Regions from separate parts of the Homo sapiens genome. Here regions 1, 2, 3 and 4 are each linked to region 5. The links come from fine-mapping of genetic effects on gene expression. A gene starts in region 5. Each other region holds a variant in brackets. All regions are shown on one strand. Distances are between the middles of the regions. Region 1 overlaps WDR11 (WD repeat domain 11). Region 2 overlaps LINC02930 (long intergenic non-protein coding RNA 2930). Region 3 overlaps WDR11 (WD repeat domain 11). Region 4 overlaps LOC105378519 (a long non-coding RNA gene). Region 5 holds the start of WDR11 (WD repeat domain 11).

What was found. PIP is the estimated chance that this variant, and not a neighbour inherited with it, causes the effect.
Region 1: its variant is fine-mapped to the expression of WDR11 in activated naive CD4 T cells (Schmiedel 2018, PIP 0.95).
Region 2: its variant is fine-mapped to the expression of WDR11 in whole blood (INTERVAL, PIP above 0.99).
Region 3: its variant is fine-mapped to the expression of WDR11 in lung (TOPMed, PIP above 0.99). The same link has a PIP of 0.9 or more in aorta, atrial appendage, coronary artery, esophagus muscle, fibroblasts and lymphoblastoid cells.
Region 4: its variant is fine-mapped to the expression of WDR11 in whole blood (TOPMed, PIP 0.97).

The regions. Positions count from the first base shown.
Region 1 is chr10:120,904,513-120,909,617 of GRCh38, forward strand. It overlaps WDR11 (WD repeat domain 11), which reads left to right. Exons shown (of 29, transcript NM_018117.12): 25 at 134-299; 26 at 807-904; 27 at 1,364-1,509; 28 at 2,264-2,343; 29 at 4,044-5,012. The coding sequence ends at 4,201. All of the region lies in intron 2 of LOC105378519 (a long non-coding RNA gene), which reads right to left. Among named protein-coding and RNA genes, the nearest start is that of WDR11, 56 kb to the left of the region's middle. The variant A/AT (reference allele first, on the strand shown) is at 3,090.
Region 2 is chr10:120,806,079-120,811,183 of GRCh38, forward strand. The region is part of intron 2 of LINC02930 (long intergenic non-protein coding RNA 2930); the gene reads left to right. All of the region lies in intron 1 of WDR11-DT (WDR11 divergent transcript), which reads right to left. Among named protein-coding and RNA genes, the nearest start is that of WDR11-DT, 43 kb to the right of the region's middle. The variant G/A (reference allele first, on the strand shown) is at 2,927.
Region 3 is chr10:120,871,809-120,876,913 of GRCh38, forward strand. It overlaps WDR11 (WD repeat domain 11), which reads left to right. Exons shown (of 29, transcript NM_018117.12): 11 at 2,031-2,115. Among named protein-coding and RNA genes, the nearest start is that of WDR11, 23 kb to the left of the region's middle. The variant C/G (reference allele first, on the strand shown) is at 2,287.
Region 4 is chr10:120,920,885-120,925,989 of GRCh38, forward strand. All of the region lies in intron 2 of LOC105378519 (a long non-coding RNA gene), which reads right to left. Among named protein-coding and RNA genes, the nearest start is that of WDR11, 72 kb to the left of the region's middle. The variant G/A (reference allele first, on the strand shown) is at 2,954.
Region 5 is chr10:120,849,220-120,854,323 of GRCh38, forward strand. WDR11 (WD repeat domain 11) reads left to right here and starts at 2,143. Exons shown (of 29, transcript NM_018117.12): 1 at 2,143-2,287; 2 at 3,305-3,416. The coding sequence starts at 2,202. It overlaps WDR11-DT (WDR11 divergent transcript), which reads right to left and starts at 1,960. Exons shown (of 3, transcript NR_033850.1): 1 at 1,475-1,960. RefSeq lists enhancers at 1,785-2,329, 1,808-1,927, 2,088-2,557, 2,330-2,873, 2,568-2,627.

The DNA.
Region 1 (5,105 bases), 55 kb after region 5:
TATTTGTAAACAAAATATTCAATTGCATTTTTTGAAAATGAGTGTTTTCCTTTAGTTTTCTACCTTATGAATTTTAAAAAGTTATGTTGGAGGAAAATGTTCTCATAATTAGAAAAACCGTTTCTCTTACTAGACAGACAGAGCTGTGCAGTTGCTGTTGGAAACAAGTGCAGATAACCAGCATTATTACTGTGATTCACTGAAAGCCTGTTTAGTCACTACTGTCACCTCGTCAGGCCCCTCTCAGAGCACCATTAAGTTGGTGGCAACGAATATGATTGCCAATGGCAAATTGGCAGGTAAGGCACACTTGATATGTTTGTCATCTCTCTGAAAAATGAGACCTTGTTCCCAGCAAAGTATCTGATTAGTAGGGACATTTCTTTCTCTTTTACATATGCTGAAGAAAAATAGAAAAATTATTGCTACCTATAAATCAGATGAATATAATTGTCTAAACCAGAATTAATTGTTTACACTTTTCAGAGTGAAAGGGGGCACTGTTAATAATTGCTGAGATAATAGGCATAAATCCAACAATCCTAGGCAAATCAGAACAATAAAACCTGTGAGAGAACTATGCTCTCCCTACTTATTCTCCAGACTGTATTGTGCTTCCTACCCTGGTTACTTGAGTAATAACAGTAAAACTCTTAATATTATGTTTCAGAATTTAAATCAAGAATGTCTTCAGTAGGTATAAAATGGGCACGACTAGATAAGGTCAAATGGGGATTTAACTTTTTAATGACTTCTCAAAGAAGGAGCTGCAGTGTCACTTAAGGGGATGCGCTTTTGTCTTTCAGAGGGCGTTCAGTTGCTCTGCCTGATAGATAAGGCTGCAGACGCCTGCCGCTACCTGCAGACATACGGCGAGTGGAATCGGGCTGCATGGCTGGCAAAAGTAGGTGGTTCCAAGTTTCAATAGGTGCCCTCAACATTCGGGATAGAAAGCTCAGTCCTGAACTTTGGACTTATGACTTAGAAACATTTTTTGGCCTGCAAAGCTGCTTTGCAAATACTGTCTTGGAACCTTTATCCTTTTCCTATTCTTTATGAGTGTAAATTGCATTACTTATTTAAAAATGGATCTTGCATTGGTAGCAATTAAGTAAAAGCAGCTGCCTCCTCTTTCTCCCAGAGTCTGAGCCGAAACTACAGTCCAGAGGTATAGCCAGGCCCTGGGTCCCGTAGGCACAGACCGTTATCATTATTCAGAGTATGCAGCAGCTTCAGGGCAGTGTGCTAGTCAAGCAGAGCATAGCCTGTATTTCATAGAAACAGATCTCACTTTAACTGAATTATTATTTTTTCTTTATAGAGTGCAGGATGTTTTTGTTGTTAACACAGGCGTCTTTCTCAGGTCCGTTTGAATCCTGAGGAGTGTGCCGATGTTTTAAGGCGGTGGGTTGACCACCTTTGTTCTCCACAAGTCAATCAGAAATCAAAGGCTCTCCTGGTTCTCCTCTCTCTGGGCTGCTTTTTTAGCGTGGCAGAGACGCTTCACAGGTAAACCGAGAGTTCACATGGGCTGCTCAGGCCTGCCCGTGAGCAGTCACTTCATGTTCTCTCGCGGTTCTAGCAGGTCATGGTACTCGATGTGTAAAGTGAAAGGAGAAGTATACATTTCAGGTTTGTCAAAAAACCCAAAGGAGAATGGAACTGTCCGTATTCATTACATCTTCATTCGGTCTAGGAGCTATGCTAGTTTCCTACTAATATGCTGATCAGACTTAACAGGCACCTAGTAAAAGGGAATTTAAAAGTCTTCAGAGAATTGGGGTCCATTCAGCTTTGACTAGAGCAACTGAGAGGAGGCCCAGAGAGCAGGGGGAGAGGCGACAGAAGGCATGGTGAGGTGGAGACATCCCGTCTGAAAATCTGGAAGAGGAACAACCATCACTAATTGTGGAGCATTTCATTTATTCAAAACTAAGGGAGGTAGATTACGGAAATATGACAAAAGATTACTTGTCAACTCTGGACAGGGGTACATGGGCACTTGTCATATCTCTGTAGATTTTTGTGTATTTAAACTATTTCACAATTTTTTAAAGTATTAATTTTAAAAAGCTTGTGTTTGGAGATGTGAGTATTCTTCCCTCCTTTTTTCAACAAACTAGGGCTTAGAAAAGTGCTTGTATCTTAATGCAGTATGCAGGTTTCCAGGGAAAATGTGTAAATGTCTTTATACCCTTCGATGCTGCTGCCCACCAGTGATGTAAATCACAAAGCATAACTCTTGTTTTGTTCTGTTGAGCAGCATGAGATACTTTGATAGAGCAGCCTTATTTGTGGAAGCTTGCCTCAAGTATGGAGCATTTGAAGTCACTGAGGACACAGATATCCTTTGCAAGGTTGTTTGTAGTGACGAGGAAGAAAGTGACATGCATGGGTTTTGGAATTTCCCTTAGTTGTGCTGCCTGGACAGGAACTATATTATATTGTGAAAGATCCATGTTCTGATTTTCTGATTCACCAAAGCCAGGAAAGAGGGAGAAATTAGAGGACAAAGAATCAGATAAGAAGGTGGCTGCACCATGGGTGTCAGCTTTGACTAGGATGGAGGGAGGCAGGAAGGACTATAGAGGACAGGGCCCCCAAGTCTTGTCTGAACTTAAAAAGAAGATGAAGGAATGATTTGGGAAACAGGTAGAAGGACCTGGTACTTTGAAATAGTACTTTTTCAAGACCAGACATTCCATGGAATAAATTTTATATATTTATCTAGAAAAAATATACTGGAATAACTAAAAAAGTCTCACGATCACCTCTAGTGACAATATGATATGGGACAAAATACAGCACTTAAAGAGAGGTGTTGCTCAGGCCAGCCACTATAATCCACCCATCAGCCAGAACATTTTATTTCTTCTAAATGGCACTTGAGCAACATTGGTTTCTTTGAAAAGAATGAACTTGAGAATGCAACTCCCAGGACCAGAAAAGAATGAAACTGGGCCAGTGCTTGCATGGTCCTGCTGCTGCTCACTGCACTTTGCTTCAAATTCTTACATTTGCTCTCATTTCTACATGGCAGGTACTTGGTTCTCTCTCTCTTTCTCCCTCTTTCTCTGTGTGTGTTTATA[A/AT]TTTTTTTTTTTTTTTAACAGAGAATTAAAACTAAACTAAAAATTTTTTTTTTCCTTTTTTTGAGGTAAGGTCTCACTCTTCTGCCCAGACTGGAGTGAGTGGCACGATCATGGCTCACTACAGCCTTGACTTCCTGGGCTCAAGCAGTCCTCCCACCTCATCCTCCCCAGTAGCTGGGACCATAGGTCCACACCATTGTGCCTGGCTTTTTTTTTTTTTTGGTAGTAACCCGGGTCTCACTATGTTGCCCAGGCTGGTCTTGAACTCCTAGTTCAAGCAGTCCTCTCACCTTGGCCTCCCAAAGTGCTGAGATTACAGGCATGAGCCACCCAGCCCTGCACTGAAAGTTTTTTAAAATTAAACTGAAGGCTGAGCCTACTCAAGATCATGTACCTAGTCACTGGGAAGGTGACTGGTTCAGTGTATGCATTTTGAGGATCAAAGCATCAGCACAGAGTACCCAATAGGCTGTTTAAAAAAATAAAAATAAATAAAAAAAAACCAATAGGACAGGGCTTTCTAAAAACCCAACAACCAGATATAGGGAACATTCAGAAATAAATATCTGCCCCCAAACTGCCAGCCTCTCAGACTTTCAAATGGAATGAGGATATGCAGGTTAAGTTTCTCCTCTCTTATCATTCATCTTCCAATCTTCAGTTGAGTGTAGGTTATGGGAGGATGTTGGTTGGGTCTTCTGGAAGGAGAAGCTTTGGACTCAGCTGGTACGAAAGGTAATGATGGTACAGACTGAGACATGGCCTACTATGGCCGGGAATCACCCTCTGCCCGCGAAAAGTCTCCTGTGTTCATCCTGTGCTGCCCGCTGTGGACACCAGGTCCCTTCCGAGCAGCCAGCAGAGCAGACGCGACTCACCCTTCCTGCTTCTGGGAGCCTGTGAAGAGTCTCATCACAGCCCTTTTTACTCTTCTTTTCCTTAACTATGGTTTACAGAAACTCATCACTGCTATATATGCAGATTATGCCCGGAGTTTGAAGAACCTCGGTTTTAAGCAGGGAGCAGTTCTCTTTGCTTCAAAAGCCGGAGCAGCTGGCAAAGACTTATTGAATGAGCTTGAGTCCCCCAAGGAAGAACCCATTGAAGAGTGACAGCTTAATAAATGCCAGGGAATCTGACCTGGAAGGCAGATGGGAGGGGGCTGGTCTGGCTGTGGCCACCGTCACAGTCCAGGATGAAGAGGAGTACAGGGTCCTGTGAGCTGTTTGACCACTGTTCTAAGACTATGTGTGCCCAAAAGCACATAAGCATCTATGTTGAGAGTAAGTTTGTATCCTGCGTTGGTCTCAGAAAGAACGTGAATGCTTAAGATTTTGAAAGTACATAATATTTTATACTTTGGGAGAGAGCTTTAAGAGTCCCTGGAAATACTTTTTAATTTTTTTAACTTAAAATTCAAGAGACTGAATCACTTTTCTCATTGATTAAATGTAAAGATTATTGAGAAACCTATAGTAAATGAAATTTGTGAGATGTTTTCTCAAATATATGCTGTGCCTGTACTTATATACAGTCTTTCAAGAGAGATACAAACAAGGCAGAAACATTTAAACTAGTATTAAAGGTAGTTTACCAAAGCATTTTTTGTTTTCTTACCTTGAAAACACAGAACCGTTAATTCCTTGGTTTAAGCAGTTGCTAAGTTTTGTAATTTTAGGCTCAGAGGACCATAGGAGGTTTTAAGATTTATGTTTAGTCCGATAGGTGAGGTCTTTGATATTTTGAATTTTAACTCCTTTTATGATACATCACAGTAACCTCATTTTTGAAGTCTTTCTTTGTACTTTAATGTTCTCTCTGTTCTAATAGTTGAAGTATGAGATGTAACTATTATAAACTGTTGCTGAAAACATAAATGTCTGTAACTTACAAACATGATAAATAAATTAAAAATTCCATCCAGGCCTTTGTGTTCTCTGCATTGCTGTGCATGAGGCCAGGTCATGAGGTGGCTCCTTAGGAGTCATCTGGTCGCCCAGCCTCTAAAGCCTGGCT
Region 2 (5,105 bases), 43 kb before region 5:
AGGACCTCTGTAAATAGCATCTCTAATTCTCAAAACAACCTTTTAAGTTAAGTATTTTCATTTTACAGATAGGAAACTGAGGTTCAGAGAAGTAGTATTATGTCCAAGCCGCCAAGCTAGTAAGTGACAGAATCAGGTTGCAAATCAGATCTGCCTGATTGTTCTCTTCCTGCTTCCCACACTACCCCACTGTTTGCACATCTCCAGTGACAGGGAACTCACTGCCTCCCAAGCCACATGTGTGCTGAATAGCGCTAAGGAATAAAAAGCACTTTGTGTTGAAATGAAACCCACTGCCTGTTACTGCTACACCTAGAACCTGCATCTGCCCTTTGGAGCCACACAAAGTCCATCAAAGAGGGCTTCCACAAGACAGCCTTCCAAGGAATTTGAAGAAAGATTGTGGAGCTCAATTTCTCTTCTCTAGGTTAAGCCTCCTGGGGCTGGGGTGTAGGGCTCAGGATGTGGGTCCTGGAACCAGACTGCTGGGGTTCAAGTCTCTGCTCAGTGACCTACTGGGTGAACGAGATGAATTTCAAATTTTCTTTTACTCAGTTTCATCTTATACTCTGTCTCATCCATAAAATGGTGTGAAAGCAATAACATCTACTTTTTTGTGTTTATGAGAATTCAATAATTTATAGAAAGCACTTGCCATACAGCTTGCAAACAGCAGGAGCTTAATAAGTGACAATGATAATCAGTACTCATGGCTTCCAGCTGTGTAACAATCCTGCTGTTTCTCCTCTTGACCTTTTCTTATTGATGTAGGGGCCTCTTGAATGTGATGAGGAAACAGAACGGAAAACTCCAGGACAGGCCTGAGCAGCTTGTAAGAGAAGAGCATCATCGCCTTTATTCTAAATGTGATGCTTGTTTTAACGTAGGCTAAGGGGAGTTATTAGTTTGGGCTATAGCCACATTATACTGGTAACTCGTATTAAACTTGGAGTTAACAGAAACCCCCTGATATTTTTATTCCACCCTCCATGCCATCCTAACTCAAGGGCCCTCTGAAGTCTAAAGCTGAAAGGTGGCTTACTCGAATTGAGTGGTGGGTAAATGGGGGTTGGTTATGCATAATCTGTTTTTCAGACATTTGAAATTCTCCATATTTTTTAAATGAGGGATTTAAAGATTTCCAGGACTTAGTCTGGGCCAACTTAGTGATGATTGAATGAAATTTATTGAATGGACAGATGGAAAGATCGATCTGGTAAGTCCATGGATGTGAAAACTGAGGATCTGAGATTTTAAGTAATCTTCCTGGGTCTCATAACCAGCCAGAATTAGGCATCAGTCTTCAAGCCTGGGGAAAGAAACTGGCATTTATTGCTTTTTGTACCAGACCCCTCGCCAGGGGCTTTACCTGCCTTTTCTCATTTAATCTTTACAACCAACTTATGCCGACAAAACCAAGGTCCAGACGTCACCCAGCAATGAATGGCAGGGCTCAGCTCCAAACCCAAGCCACCAGACCACACACTGCCTCTCTCCAGCTCTGTGTCGACGGGTAGTTCTATATGCAAAGCTATCTATATTGTTTTAAGGATAACAAGTAACATTAAGCAACTATCTGCTGGCTCCTCTTCTATGTGCCTTATTTCTTTCAACTCACTAATCCTGATAGCAACACCATAAGATGTGAGGCAGGGAAAATGTAAATGTCTTGCTCAAGTTCATCGTTAATAAGTAGAAGGACTGAGATGTGAACTGGATGGTCTAGTCTACGGACTGTATATTTAACAACCACAGCCTATTGATTCTTGTCTATCAACCTGGAATCCAGAAATACATGCCTCATGTAGGCACCCTCCAGAATTCTTTGTCCTCCCTTTCTCGTGTATGTCTCTTTCCCTAGACCCTTACCTCCTTTCCTCCTACCCCATCATAAATGGTTGCTTCATTTGAAATGATCTAACACAAAAATTGGTGAAATGATTATCAAATTTGCAGAGTACTCAGGTTGATGTGTGTCAAACACATTTATTATGCAACCAAAGATGCCGATTCTGGCTTGTTTTCTCAATTCTCAGCTCTAAAAGCTTGACAAGGAACATTACTAGAAAAACACATGCTCTGTAGTTAAGATGGATGAAACTGCAGTTTGTGTTGATTTTGGTAAGACAGCTAGTTAAGAACATGTTTAATTACCTGATCCCAGGGGTTGTGTTTGAATTAACCAGATGTTGGTTCCTCTCTGTACTGGAAGATGTTCTCAACGGATTCTTATTGATGATAGGAGGATCAATGGGTAAGTGTGCTTCAAAGTAATTAATAATGCATGTTTAGGTTAGAGAATTCAATAGCTTAAGAGAATAAAATATTTTAATTCCTATATCATCAACAGCAGTTATTTGCAACAAAGGACGACTTTGTCCCCCAGGGGATATTTGGCAACACCTAGAGACTTTTTGGTTGTCACAACTGGGGTGAGAGGTGCTACTGGCATCTACTGAGTAGAGGCCACAGCTTCTCCTAAACATTTACAGTGCTCAGGACAGCTCCCCACAGAAAGAATTATCTGGCTCAAAATGTTAATAGAGTGGAGGCTGAGGAACACTTATCTATAACAATACCAAAATAATACAAATAGTAATGAGAGAAAAGGTATTGATTTCACGATACAGAAAATGATTCATAATAATAGATTGACATTGGTCCCCACCATCACATCAACTCTATTAAAATGAATGATAATGGTTATAATTTAGTTAAAGGTCACACTGAAGCAGAGTTATCAGTATCCAATGAAAACATTTCTAGCCCTCTTTTTCTGTAGAAATTGTTCCACAACAGCCAGTTTTTCTGGGATTCACAAATTCAGGGATAACATGTAACACATGGGCTTAGCATTAACATAACTACAGAAGGAGAATTGGCTTATAAACCTGAAGACAGGCTCAGCACGGTGGCTCACACCTGT[G/A]ATCCTAGCACTTTGGGAGGACAAGGCAAGCAGATCACCTGAGATCAGGAGTTCAAGACCAGCCTGGCTAATATGGTGAAACCTTGTCTCTTCTAAAAATACAAAAATTACCCAGCGTGGTGGCGCATACCTGTAATCCCAGCTACCCAGGAGGCTGAGGCAGGAGAATTGCTGGAACCCAGGAGACGGAGGCTGGCTGCAGTGAGCTGAGATCGCACTACTGCACTCCAGCCTGGGTGACAGAATGAGACTCCGTCTCAAAAAAAAAAAAACAAAAACAAAAAAAAACCTGAATGCAAACGAAGGTTCAAGTGAAGGTGTCACCTGCTTGGGTAAGTCATATAAGTCCCATGCCTGGGTTTCCCTAATCTTATAATGAAAGTAATAGAAAACTTCCTGAGGCATTAAGATGATTATATTAAATAAAGCATATCAGCCCCTTAATAAGAAGAAAACACTATCCTACAGAAGGTTTTATTAGAAGAATCGTTATTACAAGTAAAAACAGACACCTCAAACAGCCATAGAAATTGCCTGATAATTCTAAATTCTAATAACAAACCCTAAAATAGTTATGCCCTAGTCAATTCAATCAAAGACTTAGTCATTCTTTTCTAATAAAACATGATTGTTTGAATTAAATGCTCTTAATAATATCCCAGAATTAGATAATGGCAGTGCACCTGGAGATTTCTCTATTATCAACAGAATAGCATCTCTTTGAGAAGCAGAAATGGTTGAGTGAGTTCTGAAATGAGACTAGAAAAAACAAAAATAGATATGGGGAAAAAGAACAATGTATAAAACAATCTTTCAATTAAGACTAAACAGAAAAAAGAGGCATATAGGCCAAAATCTGGGGCAGAGAACACTCTTCCCTTATGGTTTTATGACATTAGACAAGTTTTTCAGTTTCAAGAGGACAGGCACATGATTTTAGTAAAAGGAAGGCTGTATTGAATAACTAAAGGCGTGAAAATAGAAGGACAAACAATTTTTAAAATAAAAAAGGCAAACATAATGCCCTAAAGCATATCCTTGGTTAAATAATTTATTTTTCCGAGTTGCATGGAACAAGAGCAGGTTAAACTGTACCCTTCTGTAAAATTAAGTAGAACTCTCTATATAAGGGTATCAGGAGCAGAGGGCCCCCTTTTAATCTGTGAAGTGATGCACTTTAAAAATTCCATGCAGTGCTGGCCCAAGGCTAAATTTTCATATCAAACACAATGAAATTCAGGAGGAACTTATACCAAATTAATTTTCTCAAAGCATACATTGATTTGCTCACTTCCTACACTCCGTGCAAACTCAAAAGCCAGCTGAGGCTCTGTAAAGAGTGTAAGTTCAGACCCTCCTCCTGCCAGTTTCCCTCCCATTCCCTCTGTTGGCTGTCACACCTGCTATTATGCACAACTCCCTCCCTGAATTAGGGCCCTGGATCCCCTGCTTTCCTCTTTCCAAGGCTGCTTTTGCTGCTGCTTTTCCCCAGGAGGAATACTCACATTTGGATCCTAGCCAGCTCAGCCGCCACCCCTCCAGGAAGCCTCCCTGACTTCCCCAGCTGGAAGGCTGCCAGCAGCCCATCCTGCAGCCCTTCCCAACAGCTCACCTATCACACTTTTTGTATTCTAGATTATTTTGTTCCTGGACCCAACACCATGCTAAGCAGGAGAGGAAGAAGGAAAGAAGGGAGGGAAGCCCTGGCTTCAGCATCCTTTGAGCACTTGCTGCTTGCTTGCCCAGCATTTCCCCAACATCCTTGCTCTTCCAACTCTTGCATAATCCTGGGGAGTCAGCACACTCCACTTACAGAGGAGAAAACTGAGGCTCAGGGAGGTCCCCTGCTCTTTCCCCCACTCTATGTGGCCACAGCTTCTCCAATCTGCCTGGGGCACCCCACCAGTGATGTGTTGCTTACTGTAGGCTGCCTGGACACTTTTGGTGCGAATGCTAGAAAAATGAATTCCACTGACAGACCTCAGCATTACTTAGTGGGAGCCAAGGAGGCCAGTTGCTTTAAGCACTCCTGGAGCATTGCCTCAGGCCACTGGATAATTCTGGGCAAGCTGATAGCCACTGCCCCAGCCCCAAACGCCCTGGGTCCCCTATCGGAAATAGATTCCCTCACACCAAGCCGATGCCTGGGCTGCCCACACACTGCTATGCAGAGTAACAG
Region 3 (5,105 bases), 23 kb after region 5:
GTCCCTATAAATTAAGATTTGCCTTTTGGTGTGAAATTGTGTATTTGTATGTTATAGGTAGAAAAATTTATCTGGGTTCCAACTTGCTGTCACATTGATTTCATAGTAATGTGATGAACCTAATTTTCTTTACAGCATAGAGAAAAAAACAAAATTTAGTTTGCTATTAAGTACACATTATTAAAATACATTTCTCCAAAACTTCTGAAAAACAGTGTATTTGTTTGAAACTCAACATTTCTTCTTAAGATGCTATCGGCTGGCTTCTGGCTTTCTCCCCCAGTCTATTAACATGTGATTTGTGGTGAAAACCTCACCATATTTATTCTGTGGCCAACATGGCTGACTTCTCAGTGTTAAAGACTCATTTGGGTATTACTGTTTGGTAGTACCCTTCTGTTTTTTTCTGTGCCTATCTTTTGAAAGCGATTTGATTTTTATGATTCAATTGTCTATATATGTGTCCCGATTTATATAATGCAGATAAATGTTTAATTTTTGCTTTAGAAACTGTTGATTAATATTTCACCACTAATAGATTTTAATTAGGATTCATCAGTGTGCTTCATATGTGCATGTATGTATTATGTCAGTGTTCCTGATTTGTCAGTTAGGATTTTGTCAATTTCTTGGGGAAAACTACTTCTTGGGATAGCTATGTAATAAGAGCTATGGCAAGGTCTGAGCTTTCCATTGTAGAATAAGCTGTATTGGTATGTAGTGAATATCATTTACTGAATTTAGTATAACAAAGTAAAAATATAAGTACCTAAAAGTTTGTCTAGAGGTGTCACTAAGAAAGATAAATAAGAGTTCAGCTATGGAATTAATTCTCCTTGTGGTGCCCCTAGTGCATTAGATCATAGGTTCAGCATTGTTAAAACTTTCAGATTGCAGAAATCATTGGATTATTATGAAGTTCTGTTAATTGAAAAATTTTAGTAATTTAGTTATTTTCTCAGTGCCAAAAGGTATTATTATGAAATAGATGATAAATGTAAACAACTGTACAATGTGTTTTTCTAGAATAGTTTTGCAAAAGATTTCTGGAGTTTTATTCAGCAAATAAGATAATATTGGAATTTGCCCAGCATTTTTACTTCCACTCTGTTGCTTTGCATGAATTCATTAATCTTTAAATCATGTGCAGTGCAAAAGTGATTGTCCATATAGACTGTTCACTTTTCTTGCTTAACTTATAAAAACACTATAGAGACTGAAGCTTTACTTTCTCATGTATGTCCGTGTCCTTTACATTTAAACTTTAGACATACTACCTGAGACCATGAAAAGCTTTAGAATAATACCTGTAAACTATTAATTATAGTGATGACAGAATACTAATAGTTAACCAAGTGCTTACTTTGTGCCAATTACTGTGCTTAGTGCTTTATGTTTCCCCATTTAATCTCCAACAACTAGATTTTCTACTCTTCCCATTTTAAAGAGATGAAAACACAGATTTAGTGTGGGCAAGTAATTCATCCAAGAGTATAAGGAAGAGCCAGGGCTTAAGCCCAGGTTTCTTTAATTGCAGAAACCACAGTTAACCATTATACTTTACTCTCTTGTCAGGATTTATTTAATAAAAGAGACAAAACAAAAAGAAAACTTTGGAAAGAAAAATGGATAACCCTGGTTAGTGAGCTCTGCTAGATTGCTTATTTGAGGACCAGCTATAATAAACCTTCTGAGTCTCAAAAAGTATAAATTCCCATGTGTATAAAAGCTTAGGAAAGTGTTTCTTCAAATTGTATGTGTATTAATGTAAGTTTTAAGGTCTTTCTGTGAAAAATCTATTCCTGGAATTAGGCAAGGCTTTTGAGCACGTGAGGTTAGGCCCATTTTTTTTATAAGGAAGTGGACCAGAGAAATTCATTCTTCTTTGTGTGTTTGTTTAAACACATAGTTTGGGTTTCTTTTATAAAAGATAAATGTGTTAAGTGATTAAAGTCTTGAGAAAAGACTTTTCTTGCAAAGTGCTGGAACTCCCACTGAATTAATGCTCTTCCATGATGTCATTTTGAAAGGTACAAGTAATGGTTCTGTCCTGGTGTACCATCTCACCAGTGGTCTGCTACACAAAGAGTTAAGCATCCACTCATGTGAAGTCAAGTAAGTATGTCATTGTGATGATGACATCACAAACATCATATCAGAAAAAAAATTCTCATAGACTTTTCTACATTGAGTACTCTGTAATATCTGCAGTGGTGATTATTTGAAAAGTTTGAATAATATTCATGTCCAACTAATGGCTATGTTAATCAAGGATGATAACTAATT[C/G]TTTGCTGTGTAAAGAACATAAGCAGTAGAGAATGTTTTCTCTTTTATTAGGTTGGTGCAAAAGTAATTGCGGTTTTTGCAGTTTTTTTTTTTTTTTTGTTGTTGTTGTTGTTGTTTGTTTTGTTTTGTTTTGTTTTTTTTAAATGGCAAAAAACACAGCTATTTTTGTACCAACTAATATTGTTGCACCTCATTTATTTCTCCTAAGGGCCAGGCTGTTTTCTCACTGGATATCCTTACGTTGCCTTGTTCAGGTTTATTTTATTTATTTATTTTGCTCAAAATTATTATTTTTTATTATTTTAAAATTTTTTTTACTTTAAGTTCCTGGATACATGTGCAGAATGCGTGCATTTGTTACATAGTTATACATGTGCCTTGGTGGTTTGCTGCACCTGTCAACCCATCACCTAGGTTTTAAGCTCCACATGCATTAGCTATTTGTCCTGATGCTCTCCCTCCCCTCACATGCCCCCGCCAACAGGCCCTAGTGTGTGTTGTTCCCCTCCCTGTGTCCATGTGTTCTCATTGTTCAACTCCCACTTATGAGTGAGAACATACAGTGTTTGGTTTTTCTGTTCCTGTGTTAGTTTGCTGAGGATGATGGCTTCCAGCTCCATCCATATCCCTGCAAAGGACATGATCTCCCTTTTTATGACTGCATAGTATTCCATGGTGTGTATGTACCACATTTCCTCTTTCTTTTTTTTTCTTTAATTTTACTTTAAGTTCTGGGATACATGTGCAGAATGTGCAGGTTTGTTACATAGATATACATGTGCCTTGGTGGTTTGCTGCACCTGTCAACCCGTCATCTAGGTTTTAAGCCCCACATGCATTAGGTATTTCTCCTAATGCTCTCCCTCCCCTTGCCCCTCAATCCCCGATAGGCCCCAGTGTGTGATGTTCCTCTCGCTGTGTCTATGTGTTCTCATCGTTCAACTCCCACTTATGAGTGAGAACATGCAGTGTTTGGTTTTCTGTTCCTCTGTTAGTCTGCTGAGAATGATGGCTTCCAGTTTCATCCATGTCCCTGCAAAGGACATGAACTCATTCTTTTTTATGGCTGCGTATTTTTCATTTCTATAACGATCCATCAGTAGGACTGCTTATGACAAATTCAAATAAAGTCATTTTAATTGTTAATTTGTCTTATTTATTCTTTGTTTAAACATCATCAGAACGCTGCATAGCATTTATTTGATTTTTAGGACATGATCTGCTTATGAGTTCTGTGTATGCAGAGCTGTCCGAGGGAAAGCTAAATTGACGGAAAAGTGCTTCTTGCTTTCTGTTCCAAAATGCCTACCTGTGCTGTCCATAGCATTATTTCGCTGAATGCAAGGCTATTTTCCTTTTGTGTCCTATCAGTGATAGATCGTAGAGTTACATATATAAAATATGAATTTCCACTTTTTTGTTTGTTTTTTGATACAGTCTTACTCTGTCACCCAGGCTAGAGTGCAATGGCGCGATCTCAGCTCACTACAATCTCCGCCTCCTGGTTTCAGGTGATTCTTATGCCTCAGCCTCTTGAGTAGCTAGGACTACAGGCACGTGCCACCATGCCCAGCTAAATTTTGTATTTTTAGTAGAGACGGGGTTTCACCATGTTGGCCAGGCTGATGTTGAACTCCTCACCTCAAGTGATCCATCCACCTCAGCCTCCCAAAGTGCTGGGATTACAGGCATGAGCCACCACCCCCAGCCAGTTTCCAGTTTTTTTTTATGATCTTTCAGTGAAAGCATAAGAAGTCATTTTCTGTTTTCTGTACATTAAATAATTGTAGGTCTTGTGTATAAAAATTCTCAGTGAACCCTTAGCAAACACATTATCCTGAGTACATGCATTTTCTTAATGGAGAAGGGTTAACCTTTTTTTTCTTTTTTTTTTTTTTTTTGAGTTGGAGTTTCGCTCTTGTTGCCCAGGCTAGAGTGGAATGGCGCTATCTTAGCTCACTGCAACCTCTGTCTCCCGGGTTCAAGCAATTCTCCTGCCTCATCCTCCCAAGTAGCTGGGATTACAGGTGTATGCCACCACGCCCAGCTAATTTTTGTATTTTTTAGTAGAGACAAGATTTCACCATGTTGGTCAGGCCGGTCTTGAATTCCTGACCTCAGATGATCTACCTGCCTCTGCCTCCCAAAGTGCTGGGATTACAGGCGTGAGCCACCGCGCCAGGCCAGGTTAACCTTTTAAGTATCACAGCTTCTGATTGTGATGGAAATCTCTGAAAAGTTTGCATTGTCTTACTGTTTCAAGTGCATTGTTGTGTGGTGCAGCCCAGGTGACTGTTTATTGCCACCTTACGCTGTTCCTATACAGCATCTCCCCAGATACATTTACGTGGAATAATAATGTCTTTAAAAGCTTTGGGCTTTTGAGGTGCAGTGACACAGGTATCTGTTTGGACTCTTTCAGGCTGTTATTCATCTCTTCTCTTCTGTTGCAGTGTCTGTAGCTTGCCATTCTGGCACTTCTAGTAGTCTCTGCTTACACTGCTGAATCTTCTCTCTCTCTCTTTCCCATCTCCTCTTCTCTCGACATTTCCTTTCACCCTGCCTTGTGTGTCTGGTGTTTCCTTTTATGGTCAGCACTAACCAATCGAAACTCTCCATTTAATCACTACTTATTCTAGGGATTATGTTAACTATTAATACTTCACACGTATCATTTCATTGAATCCCCACTACAATCGTATGGGGCAGGTATTGTATTTCCAGTCTACAGAGTAAGAAACTGAAAATTACAGAGTAATCTGTGAAGGAGCTAGATGGAATTCACTCTGGGCCTTTGAAGCCTCAGAACCTGAACTCTT
Region 4 (5,105 bases), 72 kb after region 5:
AAAGAGCCTGCATCGCCAAGGCAATCCTAAGCCAAAAGAACAAAGCTGGAGGCATCACACTACCTGACTTCAAACTATACTACAAGGCTACAGTAACCAAAACAGCATGGTACTGGTACCAAAACAGAGATATAGATCAATGGAACAGAACAGAGCCCTCAGAAATAACGCCGCATATCTACAACTATCTGATCTTTGACAAACCTGAGAAAAACAAGCAATGGGGAAAGGATTCCCTATTTAATAAATGGTGCTGGGAAAACTGGCTAGCCATATGTAGAAAGCTGAAACTGGATCCCTTCCTTACACCTTATACAAAAATCAATTCAAGATGGATTAAAGACTTAAACGTTAGACCTAAAACCATAAAAACCCTAGAAGAAAACCTAGGCATTACCATTCAGGACATAGGCATGGGCAAGGACTTCATGTCTAAAACACCAAAAGCAATGGCAACAAAAGACAAAATTGACAAATGGGATCTAATTAAACTAAAGAGCTTCTGCACAGCAAAAGAAACTACCATCAGAGTGAACAGGCAACCTACAAAATGGGAGAAAATTTTTGCAACCTACTCATCTGACAAAGGGCTAATATCCAGAATCTACAATGAACTCAAACAAATTTACAAGAAAAAAACAAACAACCCCATCAAAAAGTGGGTGAAGGACATGAACAGACACTTCTCAAAAGAAGATATTTATGCAGCCAAAAAACACATGAAAAAATGCTCATCATCACTGGCCATCAGAGAAATGCAAATCAAAACCACAATGAGATACCATCTCACACCAGTTAGAATGGCAATCATTAAAAAGTCAGGAAACAACAGGTGCTGGAGAGGATGTGGAGAAATAGGAACACTTTTACACTGTTGGTGGGACTGTAAACTAGTTCAACCATTGTGGAAGTCAGTGTGGCAATTCCTCAGGGATCTAGAACTAGAAATACCATTTGACCCAGCCATCCCATTACTGGGTATATACCCAAAGGACTATAAATCATGCTGCTATAAAGACACATGCACACGTACGTTTATTGTGGCATTATTCACAATAGCAAAGACTTGGAACCAACCCAAATGTCCAACAATGATAGACTGGATTAAGAAAATGTGGCACATATACACCATGCAATACTATGCAGCCATAAAAAATGATGAGTTCATGTCCTTTGTAGGGACATGGATGAAATTGGAAATCATCATTCTCAGTAAACTATCGCAAGAACAAAAAACCAAACACCGCATATTCTCACTCATAGGTGGGAATTGAACAATGAGATCACATGGACACAAGAAGGGGAATATCACACTCTGGGGACTGTGGTGGGGTGGGGGGAGGGGGGAGGGATAGCATTGGGAGATATACCTAATGCTAGATGACGAGTTAGTGGGTGCAGCGCACCAGCATGGCACATGTATACATATGTAACTAACCTGCACAATCTGCACATGTACCCTAAAACTTAAAGTATAATTAAAAAAAAAAAAGAGGCTCTGATGGGCTGCTTCAGAAAGACAGGATTTGAACAAATCGTTGAGAATTTAAGAACAGATAAAAAGACAATCCTCAGTAATCACTGCCTTAAAAATGTAACCAGATTTTGGGAGGCTGAGGCGGGCAGATCACAAGGTCAAGAGATCGAGACCATCCTGGCCAACATGGTGAAACCCTGTCTCTACTGAAAATAGAAAAACTTCGCTGGGTGTGGTGGCATGTGCCTACAGTCCCAGCTACTCGGGAGGCTGAGGCAGGAAAATCGCTTGAACCCAGGAGGCAGAGGTTGCAGTGAGCCTAGATCGTACCACTGCAGTCCAGCCTGGCTCATAGCGAGACTCTGTCTCAAAAACCAAAACCAAAACAAAATGTAACCAGAGGGGTCAATTTTCGCTTTGCAGTTAGGGTATTTTTTGTTTTGTTTTGTTTTTGTTTTTGTTTTCAGACGGAGCTCTCGCTCTGTAGCCAGGCTGGAGTGCGGTGGCGCTATTTGGCTCACTGCAACCTCTGCCTCCCAGGTTCAAGAGATTCTCCTGCCTCAGCCTCCCGAGTAGCTGGGACTACAGGGGCATGCCACCATGCCCAGCTAATTTTTTTGTATTTTCAGTAGAGACAGGGTTTCACCATGTTGGCCAGGATGGTCTCGATCTCTTGACCTCGTGATCTGCCCGCCTTGGCCTCCCAAAGCGCTGGGATTACAGGCGTGAGCCACCACTTGAAGCAAGGCAGCCGACGTGAAAGCAGAGCGAGAAAAGCTACACACGATGCGGCCTCTGCTGTTCCTGTTCCTGTTCCTGGTCAGTGATGTTGCAGGTTTAGGGTCAGCAAACCACAGCCGGCAGCCCGAATCCCTGCCTCTTTCTAGAAATATGGTGTTACTGCAACAAAACTGTGCCCACCTGTTCATTGTCTGACTGTTTTCAATGATAGGGTTGAAAAGCTAGAAGGGAATCAAGTGGCCTGAAAAGCCTAAAATACTTACTCTCTGGGCCTTTACAGAAAAATAGTTCAATAACTCCTTCTCTAGGGTCGAAATGCTTCCTGGTGATGAAATCTCAGCTGTCTAACTGCCGTATTGTTTACAGACTGGTATGAGGTCCTTTGTAATTTTTCTGCAGCTAGGTGCATTAGAACCTACCTCCTTAGAAGGTTGTTGTTATAAGCTCCGTCCCATCTGGCTTCTTCATAGGCCCATGTTGCCATGGGAATGGGCCCAGGAGACTCCAAGGTTTATCCGCCAGGCTGACCTTAGTCTTATTGAGAGGTGACATCGTGCTGGCAGTCCTCAGAGCCCTCGCTCGCTCTCGGCGCCTCCTCTGCCTGGGCTCCCACTTTGGCGGCACTTGAGGAGCCCTTCAGCCCACCGCTGCACTGTGGGAGCCCCTTTCTTGGCTGGCCAAGGCCGGAGCCGGCTCCCTCAGCTTGCAGGGAGGTGTGGAGGGAGAGGCGCGAGC[G/A]GGAACCGAGGCTGCGCGCGGCGCTTGCGGGCCAGCTGAAGTTCCGGGTGGGCGTGGGCTTGGCGGGCCCCGCACTTGGAGCAGCCGGCCGGCCCTGCCGGCCCCGGGCAATGAGGGGCTTAGCACCCGGGCCAGCGGCTGCGGAGGGTGTACTGGGTCCCCCAGCAGTGCCAGCCCATCGGCGCTGAGCTCGATTTCTCGCCAGGCCTTAGCTGCCTTCCCACGGGGCAGGGCTCGGGACCTGCAGCCGGCCATGCCTGAGTCTCCCACCCCCTCCATGGGCTCCTATGCGGCCGGAGCCTCCCAGATGAGCGCCGCCCCCTGCTCCAAGGCGCCCAGTCCCATCGACCACCCAAGGGCTGAGGAGTGCGGGCGCACGGCACGGGACTGGCAGGCAGCTCCACCTGCAGCCCCTTTGCGGGATCCACTGGGTGAAGCCAGCTGCGCTCCTGAGTCTGGTGGGGACGTGGAGAACCTTTATGTCTAGCCCAGGGATTGTAAATACACCAGCAGGCACTCTATCTAGCTCAAGGTTTGTAAACACACCAATCAGCACCCTGTGTCTAGCTCAGGTTTGTGAATGCACCAATCGACACTCTGTATCTAGCTACTCTGGTGGGGACTTGGACAACCTTTGTGTCCACACTCTGTATCTAGTTAATCTAGTGGGGTCGTGAAGAACCTTTGTGTCTAGCTCAGGGATTGTAAACGCACCAGTCGGCGCCAAGTCAAAATAGACCACTCGGCTCTACCAATCAGCAAAATGTGGGTGGGGCCAGATAAGAGAATAAAAAGCAGGCTGCCCGAGCCAGCAGTGGCAACCCGCTGGGGTCCCCTTCCACACTGTGGAAGCTTTGTTCTTTTGCTCTTTGCAATAAATCTTGTTACTGCTCACTCTTTGGGTCCACTCTGCTTTTATGAGCTGTAACACACACCGCGAAGGTCTGCAGCTTCACTCCTGAGCCAGGGAGACCACGAACCCACCAGAAGGAAGAAACTCTGAACACATCCAAACATCAGAAGGAACAAACTGCAGACGCGCCAACTTAAGAGCTGTAACACTCACGGCGAGGGTCCGCAGCTTCATTCTTCAAGTCAGTGAGACCAAGAACCCACCAATTCCGGACACATTATTGTTGATAAATCTGAGGTCAAAGGCATCAACAGATGATTGAAAAGTTTAACTCCAAGTGCCGTTTCATTATCAAATATTTTTAAGCAAATCTCCATTTTACTCCAGATACTTCTGAACACGTTCTGCTATGAGATCTTCACTTTATTCCAATCTTTTGCATTCTACCATCATTTTTAAGCCAAAATACTTCAGGCAGGCTAGAAGATGAAAAAATATTTATGTCCCAAATAAGTGGCATGCACTACTGTCGTAGAAGAGAATCCATGGGGTGCAGGGACCCACGTACCTCCCTCTTGGGAAGTGCATCTCAGGTCAGGGACTCCTACAGGGCCCAATGACTGGGGCTTCAAATAATCCCACAGAGCTGAGCCAGGAAGTAGAACAATAATTAGAAGTGAAAAATGGACAAGTCTGCAATATAATCCAATGGAGACAATTCAAGGAGGAAATTGGCAAACCACTATGTTTGCACAGGTACGTTATGGAAGGAAAGGAGGGAATCCTAAGAAACAAGAGATTTCTTAAGGCTGATTTGTGCAGACATGATGCAGATCATTTTCTTAAGAACTATCTGCCCAACAACACAATTCAGTCCTCCAGGTTTTTACTTCCCAGTGTTCTTCAAAAATGTGTATCAATGAGGAATTTATTTGAAGAACAGCTCCTTGTTTGAAGTTGCTGATCTTTGCCTAGAATAGGCCAAGGAAAATATACCTCATCCCGTTAAGGAGTTAGAAAGCTGTTCCAGCAGATCATATTGTAGCAAACCTGACATAAGTTCATTTAAATGCTAAGGATCTGATCTGAGCTTGTGTTTCTGGAATTGCCAATGCACATTTCAGAGGGCCTCAGTAACTGTCAGCCAAGCCTTGGTTTTGCTTTTTGCCTTTGGCAAACCCACTCAAGAATGGTTCTAAACACAAGGACCAGAGATGTGGAACAGGGTGAAAGCAGCGGCGCTGGGAACACCTGCTTCCCGGCAATCTGGCTGCCTGGCCTTGGACAAGTTATCACCTG
Region 5 (5,104 bases):
ACCTCTATACAGTCTGATAACAGACCAGCCTTTATTAGTCAAATCAGCCAAGCAGTTTTTCAGGCTCTTAGTAGGTGTCAGTGAAACCTTTATATCCCTTACAGGCCTCCGTCTTCAAGAAAAGTAGAACGGACTAAAGGTCTTTTAAAAAGACAGCTCACCAAGCTCAGCCACCAACTTAAAAAGGACTGGACAATACTTTTACCACTTTCGCTTCTCAGAATTCAGGCCTGTCCTCAGAATGCTACAAGGTACATCCCATTTAAGCTCCTGTATAGACGCTCCTTTTTATTAGGCCCCAGTCTCATTTGACACCAGACCAACTTAGACTGTGCCCCAAAAAACTTGTCATCCCTATCTTTTGTAGTCATACTCCTATTCACCATTCTCAACTACTCATACATGCCCTGCTCTTGTTTACACTGCCGGTTTACACTGTTTCTCCAAGCCATCACAGCTGATATCTCCTGGTGCTATCCCCAAACTGCCACTCTAAACTCTTGAAGTAAATAAATAATCTTTGCTGGCAGGACTATGCTGAATCTCCTTAGGCACTCTCTAATCAGATGTCCTATGTCCTCCCAATTCTTAGACCTTTTATACCTGTTTTTCTCCTTCTCTTATTCCATTTAGTTTCTCAATTCATCCAAAACCGTATCCAGGCCGTCACCAATCATTCTATACGACAAATGTTTCTTCTTACATCCCCACAATATCACCCCTTACCACAAGACCTCCCTTCAGCTTAATCTCTCCCACTGTAGGTTCCCACGCCACCCCTAATCCCACTTGAAGCAGCCCTGAGAAACATCACCCATTCTCTCTCCATACCACCCCCCAAAAATTTTCGCCGCCTCAACACTTCAACACTATTTTGTTTTGTCTTATTAATATAAGAAGGCAGGAATGTCACGCCTCTGAGCCCAGGCCAGGCCATCGCATCCCGTGACTTGCATGTATACATCCAGATGGCCTAAAGTAACTGAAGATCCACAAAAGAAGTACAAACAGCCTTAACTGATGACATTCAACCACTGTGATTTGTTCCTGCCCCACCCTAACTGATCAATGTACTTTGTAATCTCCCCCACCCTTAAGAAGGTTCTTTGTAATTCTCCCCACCCTTGAGAATGTACTTTGTGAGATCCACCCCTGCCCACCAGAGAACAACCCCCTTTGACTAATTTTCCATTACCTTCCCAAATCCTATAAAACAGCCCCACCCCTATCTCCCTTCGCTGACTCTTTTCGGACTTAGCCCACCTGCACCCATGTGAAATAAACAGCTTTATTGCTCACATAAAGCCTGTTTGGTGGTCTCTTCACACGGACGCGCATGAAACTAACAATGTATTGGGGAGAGAAACACACATCTGCAAATATCATTGCTGAAAAGAAATCATTGCATTAAGTGCTATAGTTAAAGCGTATAAACCCAACACTGAACACAAAGGAGGGAAGGACTGGGTCTGACCTGGAGAGCAGCAGAGGAGAAAGTGCGAAATGAAAGGTACCCAGCAACAGACAAAGGGTCACACTTGGCCCCAGACATAGTGCTTCTTCCTCAAGTGCGAAGGGAGTATTGCAAACACCAGATATGCAGTGTTATCTGTATTTGGAAATTGTTTATATTCAGGCCATTCACTTCATTCAGTCTGGCAATTTCATTCAATTAATCTCATTCATTTCTTAATTAATCTCATTCATTATTCTCTGTAAACTCCACGAGAGCGGAGACTTTGTGTCTTCTTCATCGGTAGATCCCCCATGCCTACTGGCACTAGTAGTTGCCCTAAATTCACTTATCAAAGGCAGCAAGAATAACTGGGACTCTTCTCTCTTGCTTTTCACGATTTCCAGCAGGGCACAAAGGCCTACAGTCCCCACCTGAAAAAAACAGACTTGACTGGAGGCAGCGCCTCTTCTTCCAAATACAGCCCCAGCTGACGCAGATTAGCACAACCGCCTAAGCGGCGGAACTCTGGAGAGTGCGGAACCTAGGATCCTAGGAAACTGAAGGCAACGGAACCTGGGGGCGATGGAATCCGGGAGCGGTGGAACCCGGAGCCTGTAGAACTTGAATCTAGAGGAACCTGACAGCGGCGCCGAGGGGGCCACCCGGACTCTGTTTGGAACGGAAGCACAGTGTCCGCCGCTTCCTGGTTGCGGGTCAGCGCCCAGGTCCTGGGCTGGCCGCCGGGATGTTGCCCTACACAGTGAACTTCAAGGTGTCGGCGCGCACCCTCACGGGGGCCCTCAACGCCCACAACAAGGCGGCGGTGGACTGGTGAGGACGCCGAGCTTCCAGGTCGCCAGGATCGGCCAGGAATGTGTGAGGGGGAAGGGGGAAGGACAAGAGGTTTCACCCCCTGGTTAGTTTGGCCTCGCTAAGGCAGGGAGCCGCCCTCACGCAATGAGCTTGCTTTCAGTTGGTGGATTTTTGTTGTTACAAAAGTGATAATAGCCCCGTGTGGGAAATTCCCCCATGCAAATACATTTCCCCTCTTTCTCGCGTATTTCTCTGCTGTTTTCTCTGCACCTCGCCCTTTTGCCGTTCCATTCCTCTCTCTTTTCCTCTCCTCCAGCTTCCAGGCTTCTCTCTCTCCACCATTAATTCCCTGTGCACTTTCTCTTTCCCATCCTGTCTTTTCTTTTTCGTTGTCTTGTATTCCTGTTGTCTTTCAACAATGTGCCAGACCCTGTGCTAGGCGCCTGTTCTTTCACCTGTCCTTTTCACCTCTTTTCGGGCTCCTCCTGTGTAGAACATTCCTGCCTTCAACAGGTCGTCTTTATTACTCTCTCCTTTCACTATAAATTACTACTGCAGCTCTGAAAACTACTCATTAGACAAATGTAAAGCAAAATTCTGTGGCTGTGGGATGTTGTTAGGAGGACTGAAACGTCTTGTGCAGTGTTTGTCGTTTTATTTAGTTGGAAGGACTAGGATTAGTCGCAGTATCCCCAGGCACATTGTGGATACTAAGGATTAGAAATCGGATAAGCGAAAGACGTATGCCTACAAGAACAGTCAGAGGGCACAAGTTCCTTTTTATGTCCTCGGGTCTCTATTTTCATATCTTTTAGAACTTTTTTTATCCGAATGAAAAGTGAATTTCAACAAGCATTTTAAGCTTAGCCAGATCTTTTATTTAAGTGGGATAATGATAAATACTGGCCTTTGGGTTTAAATGATTTTATTAATGGTGGTACATATGAATTAGACTTATCATTTATTTAGGCTTGGCAAGAAAGAAGTCGTCCTGCTTTGTTCTGTACTTAAACTTTAACATTACTGTTTTGCTAGGGGCTGGCAAGGTTTAATTGCTTATGGATGTCATTCACTTGTGGTAGTGATTGATTCCATTACTGCCCAAACTCTTCAAGTTTTAGAAAAGCATAAAGCTGATGTTGTAAAGGTAAGTAAAATCCCACTTTGACGCTAACATGTTGTCTAGTCTAAAGTTTAATACTGTGTATCACTAAGCTCTCATTAAGTCTTACGTGTAAGTGTTGAATAGCTTTTAAATATAACAACCTATTTGGGGTAGCCTAGAATTTTCATATATATGACTTAATGTCAATACAGGGTGAGTTATTAAATGCTAGTTGTTAGATCATTTTAAGGCAGATGAAAGTTCTACCATTTACAAGACCACTCAGTCATTCCTTAGTTTTGAGCACTTACCATATGCTATGGATATGGAGATGAAAGCCCTCAGATAATTCTCCATCTTATAAGGAAGACTCACAGCGTGATAGTGTGATAAGTGAGACTTGCGTAACACGCTGTGAGAAAACAGAGGAGCTGCATATTGCCTGGTTGTGAGGAGAGTCACAGAAGTCTACAGTTTCAAGACTAGTAGACAGTAGTTAGCCAAGTAAAAAATTGACAAGGAGCATTGCAGGGAAAAGCAAGAATATACACAGAAGTAAGTAGCGTGCCATAAAGATGGCTAAAGATGGGACACTTGTAGGAGTGATGAAATAAGAGGCAGCCAGAGAGATTCAGCTGTCTGTCCTGAAGTTTTGTAAGATTACGAAGGAGTTTGGATTTTTTTTTTTTTTAGACAGAATCTCACTCTGTCGCCCAGGCTGGAGTGCAGTGGCATGATCTCGGCTCACTGTAAGCTCCACATCCTGGGTTCACGCCATTCTCCTGCCTCAGCCTCCTGAGTAGCTGGGACTACAGGCACCCACCACCATGCCCAGCTAATTTTTTGTATTTTTAGTAGAGACCGGGTTTCACCATGTTAGCCAGGATGGTCTCGAGCTCCTGACCTCGTGATCCACCCGCCTTGGCCTCCCAAAGTGCTGGGATTACAGGTGTGAGTCACCGCGCCCAGCAGGAATTTGGATTTTTGAGTAGGAGATTGATGTGACCATATTCGCGTCTTAGAAAAACTCTGGCAGCAGTGGAGGATCTGCTGAAGAAATGCAAGACTGGAGGCAGTAAGATCATTTAGGAGATTTCTGCAGTAATTTTGGTGGGAAATTCTAAGGGCCTAAAATAAAGCTGGGGCATGGAGAAGTCATGTTTAAGAGCAGCAAAGAGGTAAACCTGATAGCCTTTATAGTGATCAGTATAAAGGAGAGTAAGAGAATAGAGTGACTCCAAGGTTTCTTTTGGTGTAATTGAATGACAGTGTTTCCAGTTATCAGAGGTAAGCATCTGTGAAGTCAGTGAATTTTTAAGTTTTCAACATGCAAAATCTGAGATGCCTGTAATATATTGCATTATAGTGATCCGGGCTTTAGGAGATAGGTCAGGATTAGAGATAGAGATTTGGAGTCTTTTTCTTTTTTAAATAATAGCTTTATTGAGATACTCATACCATAAAATGTACTGACTTAAAATGCACAATTCTGTGGCTTTTAGTATATCCACAGTTAATGCAGCCACAATTACAATGAACTTTTTTACCTCAAAAAGAAACCCTATATCCACTAGCAGTCATATTCCATTTCCCCCATTTCCCTCATCCTTTGGCAACCACTGACCTACTTTCTGTGTCTGTAGACTGGCCCATTCTGGGGATTTTATATAAATTGAATCATATAATTTGTGGTCTTTTGTGCATGACTTCTTTCACTTAGGATAATGTTT